3 linked regions of the Homo sapiens genome follow. The protein of the gene in region 1 purifies or fractionates together with the protein of each later gene. This does not show direct contact. Each region holds a gene or a part of one and is shown in the gene's direction. Other genes may lie near its edges. The genes, in order: TLR2, CLEC4M and LY96.

Region 1 (3,750 bases):
TCAATATATGCAGAGGACACTGATTTGTGGCTAAATAAATGATTTCTATCTGACTTTGCCAGACAATTCTAATTGACTTTGGGATTATAGAGCAATAGCATCAAAATCCACCTTAGGCAGTTCAACTAGGGAAGAGAAATAGAGAAAAAACAAGTTTTTAGTTTCAGGAGAAATAATTTGAAGGAAGTTTTCTTTTGTCAGAAATCACAAGGTAGAGAGCTGGAGATTTGGAATTAATAAGAAAGCATTTTCAGCCAGCTGGACAACCTGATGGTCAGGATAAAGAAAAATAGTAAGATAGTGACCTGTATACAAAAACCTCTCAATTTCATATTTAGGTCTATTGATTAAGTTTCCCTGATGTTCCAACCATCAGAGAGGATTAGGGATGTGGAACAGGGTAGGAGAAACAGCCCTGGATTTAAGGTAAAATTCTGGTTTCAAATCTCAGTTCTGTCATATGTTATACAATTCACATGACATTTTCTTGTGTAAGGGAGGAACAAGGATGCTTGCTCTGCTTCATATCTCACTTTGTGAAAATCAAATGTAATTATGAACATAAAAGGTAGATTATTAACATTAAGGCAGTTGAATTTTAAAAGCTTGTTTTCTTCCCTTATACATATTCCTAACCGTGGAGACAGCTAGGTTCTGTGGCAATGAAGAAAATTGATCAATGACTGTTTTTGGTATTACTTTGGGAAGTAGGGATGGAATAGGGGCAAGGGAAGGGCTTAGCTTCAAACTGTAGACAGAAGTGGGAAGCCCAAATCTTTGCATGGTGAGAAGTGGGATGGAATGTAGGTGCTAGAGATGGTGCACCAGTAGGGACTGTCACTGGATTGGGGAAAAAAATCCGGGGCTGTCCTTATCTGCTCCCTTAGGCAAAATCGTTCTGTGTTAGTCTGGAGGGTGAACCTATTTTAATGCAGGAGGGCATAGACTTTTGGGTGGAAGCGGACCCTGGAGATGTACTGGCAGGTGAATAGAGTGTGGAAAAGTGGGGAAAGGAGAAGCACGATTCATGAGCCTGAGTTCGGGCTTCCATGGATGGAAAAGCATCAGGAGTGGAATTTAAAGACGGTGTGTTTCAGGTGATGTGAGGTCCTGGATGCCCGAAGCTTCAAGAAAATACTGGTTGGGCACTTAGCTTTCCCTGTGGTTGCCAATCCCACGCAGGCCGCCTCTAGCGTCTCGATTCGCTTTTCTCTGACCTGGAACCTCCGCCAAGCCCCCAGCTCTCTTCTTCGACCCAGCCTTGCACGGGGCAGCTGTCGGGGCAGGACCCGCCTCTGGCCTGTCGCAGCCTAGCTCACGGTCAAGGGCGGGAGCCTGCTGGGAAGCACGGCCGCGGGGGCTCGCTCGGGGCCACCTGCCTGGAACTCAGCGCGAGGTCCAGAGTTCCCTCCGGCTGCGCAGCGGCGCACGTGCCCCGTGGAAGGGGCGGTTCCCGCACCCCAGAAGGAGGGGGCGCCCGGCCGCGCGGACTTTCCCTTTTGCTTACTTCCTAGTCCCGGGCAGGCCGGCTCGGAGGCAGCGAGAAAGCGCAGCCAGGCGGCTGCTCGGCGTTCTCTCAGGTGACTGCTCGGAGTTCTCCCAGGTACGTCGTGCGCTCCCCACTCGTGTGGTCTCTCTGCACCCCTTCCTGGGGTCGGGTCGGGCAGGGGCGGAGGGGAGCCGCAGCCCGGTCACGGGCTCTGGGGAACCCGGGCTCCCGTTCGGCTGCACCTGGGCCCCTAGCTCCTGTCCGGGCGGGGATAGCGGGAAGCGCACCAGGCCCCCGGGACGCCGGTGCTTCTTTGCACGGCCCAGCGCGGGAATGTGGACACCAGCGAAGCCGGCTCAGGTCGGCCCTCGGGAGAAGCAGGGGCTACACGGAAAGGGAGCCCGAGGGTCCTGCAGAGCCCGAGGTCGGGACCCCGCGCGTGCAGTGCCAATGGGCTGCGGCTGGGCTGAGCGCCCTTCCAACCTTGCAGGCCCCGGGGGGGTTGCCGCGGAGAGCTTCCGCTGGGGCTCCGGGCCTCTGGCCGCCACCTCCCTCGGGAGGCCGAGGGGGGCGGTGGCCCCGGCCCGGCCCTCCCGCTTCCCTCACGGCCTGGCCCTCCCGCTTCCCTGATTCCCGGTAGGGTCGCTCTCCCCGCCTCCTGGCCCCTCTTGGCTCGGATGACAAAGATTGGGTAAAGGCTTTCAACGAGCTAGCGTCTGGCAGGGGGTGTGTCCTCGCTCACTGGTTACTGCTAGGACGGAGCTTGGATTTTGGTCACCGTGGCTCAGAGGTGGGAAAGGTTCCGTGCTCTGGGTCTGTCCAGGACCCTGGCTCCCTAACCCAAGTCTGACCTCTGCTCCCTGGCAGGCTTCGCCCCACCTCTGCGTTCCTTCATTCTTAGGATGTGTGAGTTAGGTCTCTGATTAGAAAACAACTTACAGCGTTTAAGCAAAGTCGAGTCCTTCAAGTAAGAATGCTTTGAAGTGCCCTTTACAACTTCTTCAACTTCTATAAATATGAACTTGTGTTTAGAACTTAAATGCAAGCCAGGAAAGTCTTTTTCCTGTTTGAAAGAGAGAGAAAGAGAGAGAAAGAGGTGATTGGAAGTGGTGGGTGGGGGCGGAGAAAGAGAAGGAGAGTAATCTGGGTGTAGACAACTCAAAGTTTGCTGAGATGACTTTAATCTTTTGACTCTGTTATTAAGATTTTTACCAAAGAGCAACTGTAGCTATGGTGGCCTGACTTGAAGGGACAGACCAAACAAACAACAAAACACAAAACAAAACAAACAAACAACAAAAGCAAGAGCAGAAACTATTGGAAAATGATTTATTCACCAATATTTTAAAGGTTCTTCCTGTTCTAAGCAAGGAACATCTTTAAGTTCTTTATAATGTACCCATTTTACATTTACAAAAACTGCCAGAAGTTGACAGCATGTTTTGGGGGTTTCTAAGCTATCAGTTAATTTTTTGGGGTACAGTTTTATTGATAAACTAACAGAGTAGAAAAAATCTAATGGAATACCCCCAAATTTAAAAGAGGGCAAGAAAAGAGAGACAATAGAACATAAAACAAATGGGACAAGAATAAAGTACATAGTTGTCACAGTCCCTTGGGTGCTGCTGTAACAAAATACCTGAGACTGGGTAATTTACAAAGAACAGAAATTTATCCATTCATGGTTCTGGAGTCTGGGAAGTCCAAGATTGAAGGGCTGCATCTGGTGAGGGTCATCTGGCTACATTATAACATGATGGAAAGCATCACATGGTGAGAGAGAGCAAGAGAGGACAGAACTTACTTTTATAACAAACTCATTCTCACAATAAACTGCTCCCTTGGTGATAACATTAATCCATTTATGAGGGTACAGCCTTCATAACCTAATCACCTCTTAAAAGGTTCCACCTCTCAGCTCGCAGTGAGCCGAGATCATGCCACTGCACTCCAGCCTGGGTGACAGAGCGAGACTCTGTCTCAAAACAAACAAACAAACAAAAATTCCACCTCTCAACACTGTTGCATTGAAGATGAAATTTCCAATACATGAGCTTTGGGGCACACATTCAAACCATAGCAATAGTTCAATTACTTTAAAGCCCAAAATGTCAGTAATTATATTAAATGCAATTTAATACATCAGTAACTAAATGAGATAGACTAAATTTTATGATAATCAGACTAATATTATCAGACTAGACTTCAAAACAACCCAACAATCATATGCTGTTTACAAGAGACACATTTATGGATACTAA
Region 2 (3,750 bases), on another chromosome or scaffold:
TCCAGACCAGCCTGTCCAACATGATGAAACCCGTCTCTACTAAAAATACAAAAAAATTAGCCAGGCATGGTGGCATGCACCTGTAATCCCAGCTGCTCGGGAGGCTGAGGCAGGAGAATCACTTGACCCTGGGAGGTGGAGGTCGCAGTGAGCCAAGATTGCACCACTGCATTCCAGCCTGGGCAACACAGCGAGACTCCGTCTCCAATAAATAAATAAAAATACAAAAATTAGCCAGATGTGGTGGCGCACACCTGTAGTCACAGCTACTCGGGAGGTTGAGGCAGAAGAATCACTTGAACCCAGGAGGCGGAGGTTGCAGGGAGCCCAGATCAGCCACTGCACTCCAGCCTGGGTGACAGAGCGAGACTCTGTCTCAAAAAAAAAAAAAAAAAAAGAAAGAAAGAAAGAAAGAGAAGAAATTTTGACATATGAATTCATCCATGCAGCCACTTCTCAGAAAAAAATATGGAACATTGTCAGCAGAAAATTTCCTTCTACCCCATTCTGGTCAGTTTACACCCACTCCTTCCAGAAAGCCCCCAATTTGAGTCCCATCAAAGGTTAGTTCTTCTGCCTATTCTTGAAATTCATGTAAACTCAAAATCTTACAGAATGTATTCATTCTGTTTGGGTTTCTTAACTCTTGTGAGATTCATCCAAATTGTTGTTTGTATCAGTACTTTGCTTTTTCATTACTGTATAGAATTCCACCCTCTGAATATGCCATGATATTTGTTTTCATTCACCTGCTGGTGGCCACATGGGTTGTTCCAATTTGGGTTGGGATAGTCTAACTAAAGTTACTATAAATCTTTCTATTTTGCCCTTGATGTTATTAGACCCTCTTTGGTTAACTGGGTGGAGTGTGGAGGAAAACTGCCTGGATTCGAATCTCAGCTCCACCATTTACCAGCTGTGTGACCTTGGGCTAGTTTCTTAATCTCGCAGTGCCTCTATTTTCCCCTATCTGTAAACTGGAGGTCACATGATCTACTGCAGGGTAGGAAAGTTAAATGAAGGAGTTTTATAAAGCTGTTGGAAATGTGCCTATCATAGGTATGAAATAAACAACTATCGTTCATCTCCAACTCCCAAAAACAAAGGAAATTCCCATGAATGAGAGCATCCGCAGACCAAAAGAGCAGATCCTGGAGGTCAGAGGGCATGGTGGTTCCAGGAACTAGGCGGTACTGCCTGCCCACCCCTGCCCTACGTAGGGAGGCATAACAAAGTCGCTTTCCATTAGAATGAATTGAATTTTATTAAAAGCATCCCATCGCTCAACCATGTCATGAGTGGAGGAGTCCTTCTCCCTGTCAACCCCAGACCATCCCCCAACACCTCCCTGAAATTCCTGCAAGGTCAGGCCGATCTCAGGCTCTGACTCCTTTCACTAGCCTTTCTGGTGATGTGATCTTACCCAGCTTCCTGTTTGTCTTCCTGAGAGACAGTAGATTTAGAAAGTGAGGATCAGAGGGTGGAAAATAAAAGCTGTGGTCCCCAGGAGTCCTGAACATCTGGGGACAGCGGGAAAACATGAGTGACTCCAAGGAACCAAGGGTGCAGCAGCTGGGCCTCCTGGGTAAGGCTGGGTTGGAACTCTGGGATCCTGGGTAAGGGGAAGGGATGGCCCAGGCTCTGAGCTGATGTCTGTCAATTCAGAAGAAGATCCAACAACCAGTGGCATCAGACTTTTTCCAAGAGACTTTCAATTCCAGCAGATACATGGCCACAAGAGCTCTACAGGTAGGCAAGAGTTAGGGAGCAGATAGTGGAAGACAGAGCCTCCCAGACCCCTGGGTCCTGGGGAGGTAGGTGTTGGGGTCTGGAATCCTGGGTTCTGGGGAAGGAAGGTCTGAGACCTGGGTTCCTGGGTCCTGAAGAGGACGGGGTAGGGATCTGAACTCCTCACACCTGGGGAGGTGGGGGTTGAGGCTTGGGTTCCTGGGGCCTGGGGAGGTGGGAGAGGGGTTCTGGACTCCTGGGACCTACAGAGGTGGGGGTTGGAAGCTGGACACCTGGGTCCATGGGAGGTAGGGACTGGAGCCTGGACTCCTGGAACCAGAGGAGGTGGGAGAAGGGGCCTGGATTCCTGGGTCCTGGGGCAGGTGAGAACTGGGGACTGGAATCCTGGGTCCTGGGGAGGTGGGAGCTGGGACCAGATTACTGGGTCCTGGGGAAGGTGAGAACTGGGGCCTGAATTCGTGGGTCCTGGGGAGGTAGAAGCAGGTATCTGGGTTCCTAGGACCTGGGGAGGTGGGAGCTTGGGCCTGGGTTCCTCCTGGGACCTGGAGATGTGGAGGCTGGGACCTGGATGCCTGAGTCCTGGTGTTGCAGGATAATTTAGGAATCACAGAGATCAAGGGGTTGAGGAGGATTTATTATTATTATTATTATTTAGGTGCACCAGCCCAGTCAGATTAACATCCAAAAAGACTGAGCCCCAAACAAAGAGTCAAGTTACCTTTTAAGCATTTCATGGGGTAGGGGGAGATCTGTGCAGGGGGAAGCATATTACAGAAGCGAGAAACAAAGATAGTTATTCAATTGAGACATGCATTACGTCATTTCTTATTTTTCAAGGAAAAACATGTTTTACAACTTGAGTTTATCTGCCTAGTGACCTTGCAGCTGCACAGCTAGAGAAACAGGGTCTTCACAATGCCTGGGAAAGGGAGAGATAAGGCTCACTAGCCACACACAGAAAAACAGGCAGTTAATTCTTTTTTATTTTATTTATTTAGTTTTTATTTTTATTTATTTATTTATTTTTTTTGAGACAGAGTCTTGCTCTGTCACCCAGGCTGGAATGCAGTGGCGCCATCTCGGCTCACTGCAAGATCTGCCTCCCAGGTTCATGCCATTCTCTTGCCTCACCCTCCCGAGTAGCTGGGACTACAGGCGCCCACCACCACCACGCCCGGCTAATTTTTTGTATTTTTAGTAGAGATAGGGTTTCACTGTGTTAGCCAGGATGGTCTTGATCTCCTGACCTTGTGATCTGCCTGCCTCAGCCTCCCAAAGTGCTGGGATTACAAGTGTGAGCCACCATGCCTGGCCAAAAAGGCAGTTAATTTTTAAAGGATTCCACCTCTTTCTCTTCCTCAGGGGGAATTGGGTTTTCTTACATACAACTGAGTTTTTGCTTACACATTCTTTAATTTCTTTTCATTCCTGTTCCACTGGGGAGGTGGACGCAGGTACCTGGGTTCCTGGGACCTGGGGAGGTGGGGGTTGGGACCTAAACTCCTGGGACTTGGGGAGGGAGAGGCTGGGGATGGGGTTCCTGGGTCCTGGGGAGGTTAGAGCTAGGGCCTGGATTCCCAGGTGTTGGAGTGGAGGGGGCTGGGGCTGGGGTTCCTGGGTCCTGGGGTGCTGAGGGATTAGGCCAGGCTCTCCCTGGGCCAGGCTCAGGTGGGAACACTGGCAGGCTGACGCATGTATCCTCTCTCAGGGTGTCTTGGCCATGGCGCCCTGGTGCTGCAACTCCTCTCCTTCATGCTCTTGGCTGGGGTCCTGGTGGCCATCCTTGTCCAAGGTCAGGGGCAGGTTCTGAGGGTCTGGGGTCCCCAGGCCTGGCCTTTTGGCTATGAACAGAGCCTGGAGTGGCCAGGTCTGGGAGGGAGGTGGGACTGAGAGCCAAGATGTTGTCCCTGGGGGTCTGTAGGGGCCTCTCCCACAGCCCCTCCCCACTCTAGAGCAGGACAGGAGAGGGAGGAGGAGGAGGGGAAGAACCTGGCTCTCCTT
Region 3 (3,650 bases), on another chromosome or scaffold:
TGTCTTGTGCTTCTGTGTCTCCAGGAATTCCTTATGAAAATGGTCTTTCAACTTCTACACACAGCACTGCTTTTGGAGAAGTTCAAGCCCAAGTCCATGGAGTAGGCCATGGGATCACTGTTTGAAACAGACGCCATGATATTCTTCTCCACACCCTACCCTGAAAGTTGAGAAGTGAAGACAAATTAGGAAAGTTGGTGGTGCTTCAGGTTCAGAGCAATGAGGGCCTACATGAAGGCAGCGCGGTAATGGGGATGAAAAGGAGGTTAGAAAGATTTACTGGGACTGGGAATTCTAGTGCCAACTTGGTGATGAAGAGGAGGAAATCACTTTTAGATCTGTTGGGTGAGGTAACTGGGCAACATTTGAGTAGAGATATTGAATAAATACATGGGATCAATGCTCAGGAGAAAGGTTGAGACTAAAGTTGACTTGAGAATTGTCACCTTATGTGGTACTTGGCCTGAGAGAGTGTGCAGAGTGAAAACTAAGGAGAACTGAGGATAGATCCTGGAGAAATCCAGGAGTCGATGAAATAGACTGAGGAAGAGGAGTCAGAGAGATTGGAGGACACCTGGAAGGGAGTGGTTGCACCAACACCAAAGAAGGTTTAGGGAAAGGAGCAGGCAGTTCTGTTAAGCATAGCCAAGTTCAAATTAAAGTTAGAAAAGTTGTCTTTTGATTATGGTTACAATGAGTCATGGTGATCTTACTAGGAAAATATTTTCAGTGAGGTAGTGGTTGCAAAATTGTTTTCTTTATGAAAAGGATTGTGCATCTTTTTTGGCCAGGCATGGTGGCTCATGCCTGTAATCCCAGTACTTTGGGAGGCTGAGGTGGGTGGATCACGAGGTCAGGAGTTCAAGACCAGCCTGGCCAAGATGGTGAAACCCCATCTCTACTAAAAATACAAAAATTAGCTGGGCACGGTGGTAGGCGCCTGTAATCCCAGCTACTCCAGCGGCTGAGGCAGAAGAATTGCTTGAACCTGGGCAGCGGAGGTTGCAGTGAGCCAAGATTACGCCACTGCACTCCAGTCTTTCTCAAAAAAAAAAAAAAAAAAAAAAAAAGAAGAAAAGAAAAGAAAAGAAAGAAAAGGATTGTGCATCTTTTTCATTTGGGCCAACTGAATAAGTTGGAAGAGTTGAGAAAAATGCATTGATTACTGGAATTTTTCATGGTAGCTGGAAATAGGGAGATCATGAGGAAATTAAAAAATAGGCATACATTTAATTTTTCATCAAAAGATTCTATTTTATTCTCAAGAAATCTTTCATCAGAACTCCTAGAAAGTTGACTGTCTCACTGTCCTTCCTTTCCTTTTCTTTTCTTTTGAATTTTCTAGCAGAACCATAGAACTAGACATTTTATGTCTTTATTTGATAGTTTTCTCAATGAAGTTATGAAGGCTCTTCTGTTTTTAGGCAGAGCATGCATAGTTTTACTGTGGAACATTGTATTTGATTATGATTTACTAGTTGCCCTCTCAGAACTTCAGTTTTCTCATCTGCAGAAGAAGAGTAATAATTGACATCTTGTAGATAGTTGTGATGATTAAATGAAATAATGTAAGAAAAGCACAGGGCCCCTTTTAACTATACAATAAATGTTAATTACTATGTATAAAAGAATCTACTATTTGAGGGCCTAATGGGATTTTTTCTTTTAAAGGGAGAGATTTAAAGCAATTATATTTCAATCTCTATATAACTGTCAACACCATGAATCTTCCAAAGCGCAAAGAAGTTATTTGCCGAGGATCTGATGACGATTACTCTTTTTGCAGAGCTCTGAAGGGAGGTAAGTATTCAGTTCATATTACTTTTAGAATAGGAAATAATTCTTTATGAAAATGTTATGAAAATTAAATACATTGAAAATGGGAAGTTCCTTTTCTGCTAATAATTCTTTTTCCATCCAAAGTTTTTACTTTAGCAGCTTAAATAACATTTTATAACTATATACTTGAACTGTTAGGATGACACTTACATGATTTGTATTATTAATATTTTTCATAGTAACCCACCAGATTTTCTATACAGTCCTTGGTTTCTTTAGTGACTTCTGCCTTTATGTTCCTCCTTGGAATTATTTACAGAATAATAACATTCAGAAATTAGGACCCTTACAGAGATCTTGCACCAAGGGATAAAAAAATAAAAAATAAAAATGAATAAAAAAAAGGAATTACCACTTTAGAGCTATATTCCAGCTTTTCCATTTACCAGCAATGTGACTTTTGGCATGTTATTAATATTTAACCTTTCTTGGCCTCATTTTCCTCAGCTATAAAATGGGAAAGTAAAACACATCATACATAGTTTTAAGAATTAAATTTGAGAATGTATGTTAAAAAAAAAAGCCTAGTACAGTGTTCAGAATAAGAATCCTTCTTTTGTTATGAATTTTCCAGTCCTGTCATCTTTATAATGAGGGAACTGATGTTTGCAGTGGCTTAGTAATGTGTCCATGGTCATTTGGAGAACTAGTAACAGAGCAGCATCCTAACTCTAAGACATGACTCTCCTACTGTGTCATGCTTTCTCTTTGGAAAAAAAAAATCCCTTAGCAGATTACTGTTTTTTTTTTTAATTGTGCATTTCTTTTACACAATCTCTGTGGAATTACATTGATATTTTACCTGAATCTTCAAAGTTTCTCTTTCTTGAGACCTCAGAGGTGTCAGACTCAAATCAGCTTGTCTACTTCTTCTCTCCCTCCTCCCACTTTCTTCCATAAACATCTATTGAACCTAATTTGAGCAAATCGTGATTTACGTTCTGGTTATCTGAAGTTGAATGGTAGGATCTCCTTCCTCAGAAAGTTACTCTGGGGAAAACTGGATTGCCATATGCAGAAGAATAAAACTGGACCCCTAGCTCTCACCACATACAAAAATCAACTCAAGATGGATGAACAACTTAAGCATAAGATCTGCAATTACAAACATACTAGAAGAAACCTAGGAAAGATTCTTCTGGACATTGGTCTAGGCAAAGAATTTATGACAAAGATCTCAAAAGCACAGGCAATAAAGACAAAAGTAGACAAATGGGATTTAATTACATCAAAAAGCTTCTGCATAGCAAAAGAAATAATCAACGGAGTGAACAGACAACCTGTAGTATATGAGAAAAAATTCGCAAACTATTCATCCAACAGGGGACTAATATTCAGAATGTACAAAGAACTCAAGCAACTCAACAGCAACAACAAAAACAAATAACCCCATTAAAAAGTGGGAAGAGTGGCTAGGCGCAGTGGCTCACGCCTGTAATCCCAGCACTTTGGGATACCAAGGCAGGTGGATCATGAGGTCAGGAGTTCGAGACCAGCCTGGCCAACATAGTGAAACCCCATCTCTACTAAAACTACAAAAATTAGCCAGGTGTGGTGGCATGCGCCTGTAGTCCCAGCTACTTGAGAGGCTGAGGCAGGAGAATCGCTTGAACCCAGGAGGTGGAGGTTGCAGTGAGGCGAGACCATGCCATTGCACTCCAGCCCAGGTGACAGAGTGAGACTCCATCTCAAAAAAAAAAAAAAAAAAAGTGGGAAAAGGACATGAATAGACACTTATAGATACTTTTCAAAAGAACAGATAGAAATGGTCAATAGGTATATTACTAATCATCAGAGAAAAGCAAATTAAA

What was found.
Region 2: the proteins of TLR2 (region 1) and CLEC4M purify together in Homo sapiens (affinity purification with western blotting, with the first as the bait; one study listed by BioGRID). This does not show direct contact.
Region 3: the proteins of TLR2 (region 1) and LY96 purify together in Homo sapiens (affinity purification with western blotting, with the first as the bait; one study listed by BioGRID). This does not show direct contact.

Annotation. Positions count from the first base shown.
Region 1 is NC_000004.12:153,682,758-153,686,507, forward strand, and holds the start of TLR2 (toll-like receptor 2 precursor), read left to right. Parts: upstream 1-1,522; 5' UTR 1,523-1,603; exon of another isoform or gene 1,604-3,750. UniProt on the Homo sapiens protein: Cooperates with LY96 to mediate the innate immune response to bacterial lipoproteins and other microbial cell wall components. Cooperates with TLR1 or TLR6 to mediate the innate immune response to bacterial lipoproteins or lipopeptides.
Region 2 is NC_000019.10:7,761,728-7,765,477, forward strand, and holds the start of CLEC4M (C-type lectin domain family 4 member M), read left to right. Parts: upstream 1-1,515; 5' UTR 1,516-1,539; coding exon 1,540-1,585; intron 1,586-1,665; coding exon 1,666-1,749; intron 1,750-3,457; coding exon 3,458-3,541; intron 3,542-3,750.
Region 3 is NC_000008.11:74,008,330-74,011,979, forward strand, and holds part of LY96 (lymphocyte antigen 96 isoform 1 precursor), read left to right. Parts: intron 1-1,671; coding exon 1,672-1,800; intron 1,801-3,650. UniProt on the Homo sapiens protein: Binds bacterial lipopolysaccharide (LPS). Cooperates with TLR4 in the innate immune response to bacterial lipopolysaccharide (LPS), and with TLR2 in the response to cell wall components from Gram-positive and Gram-negative bacteria.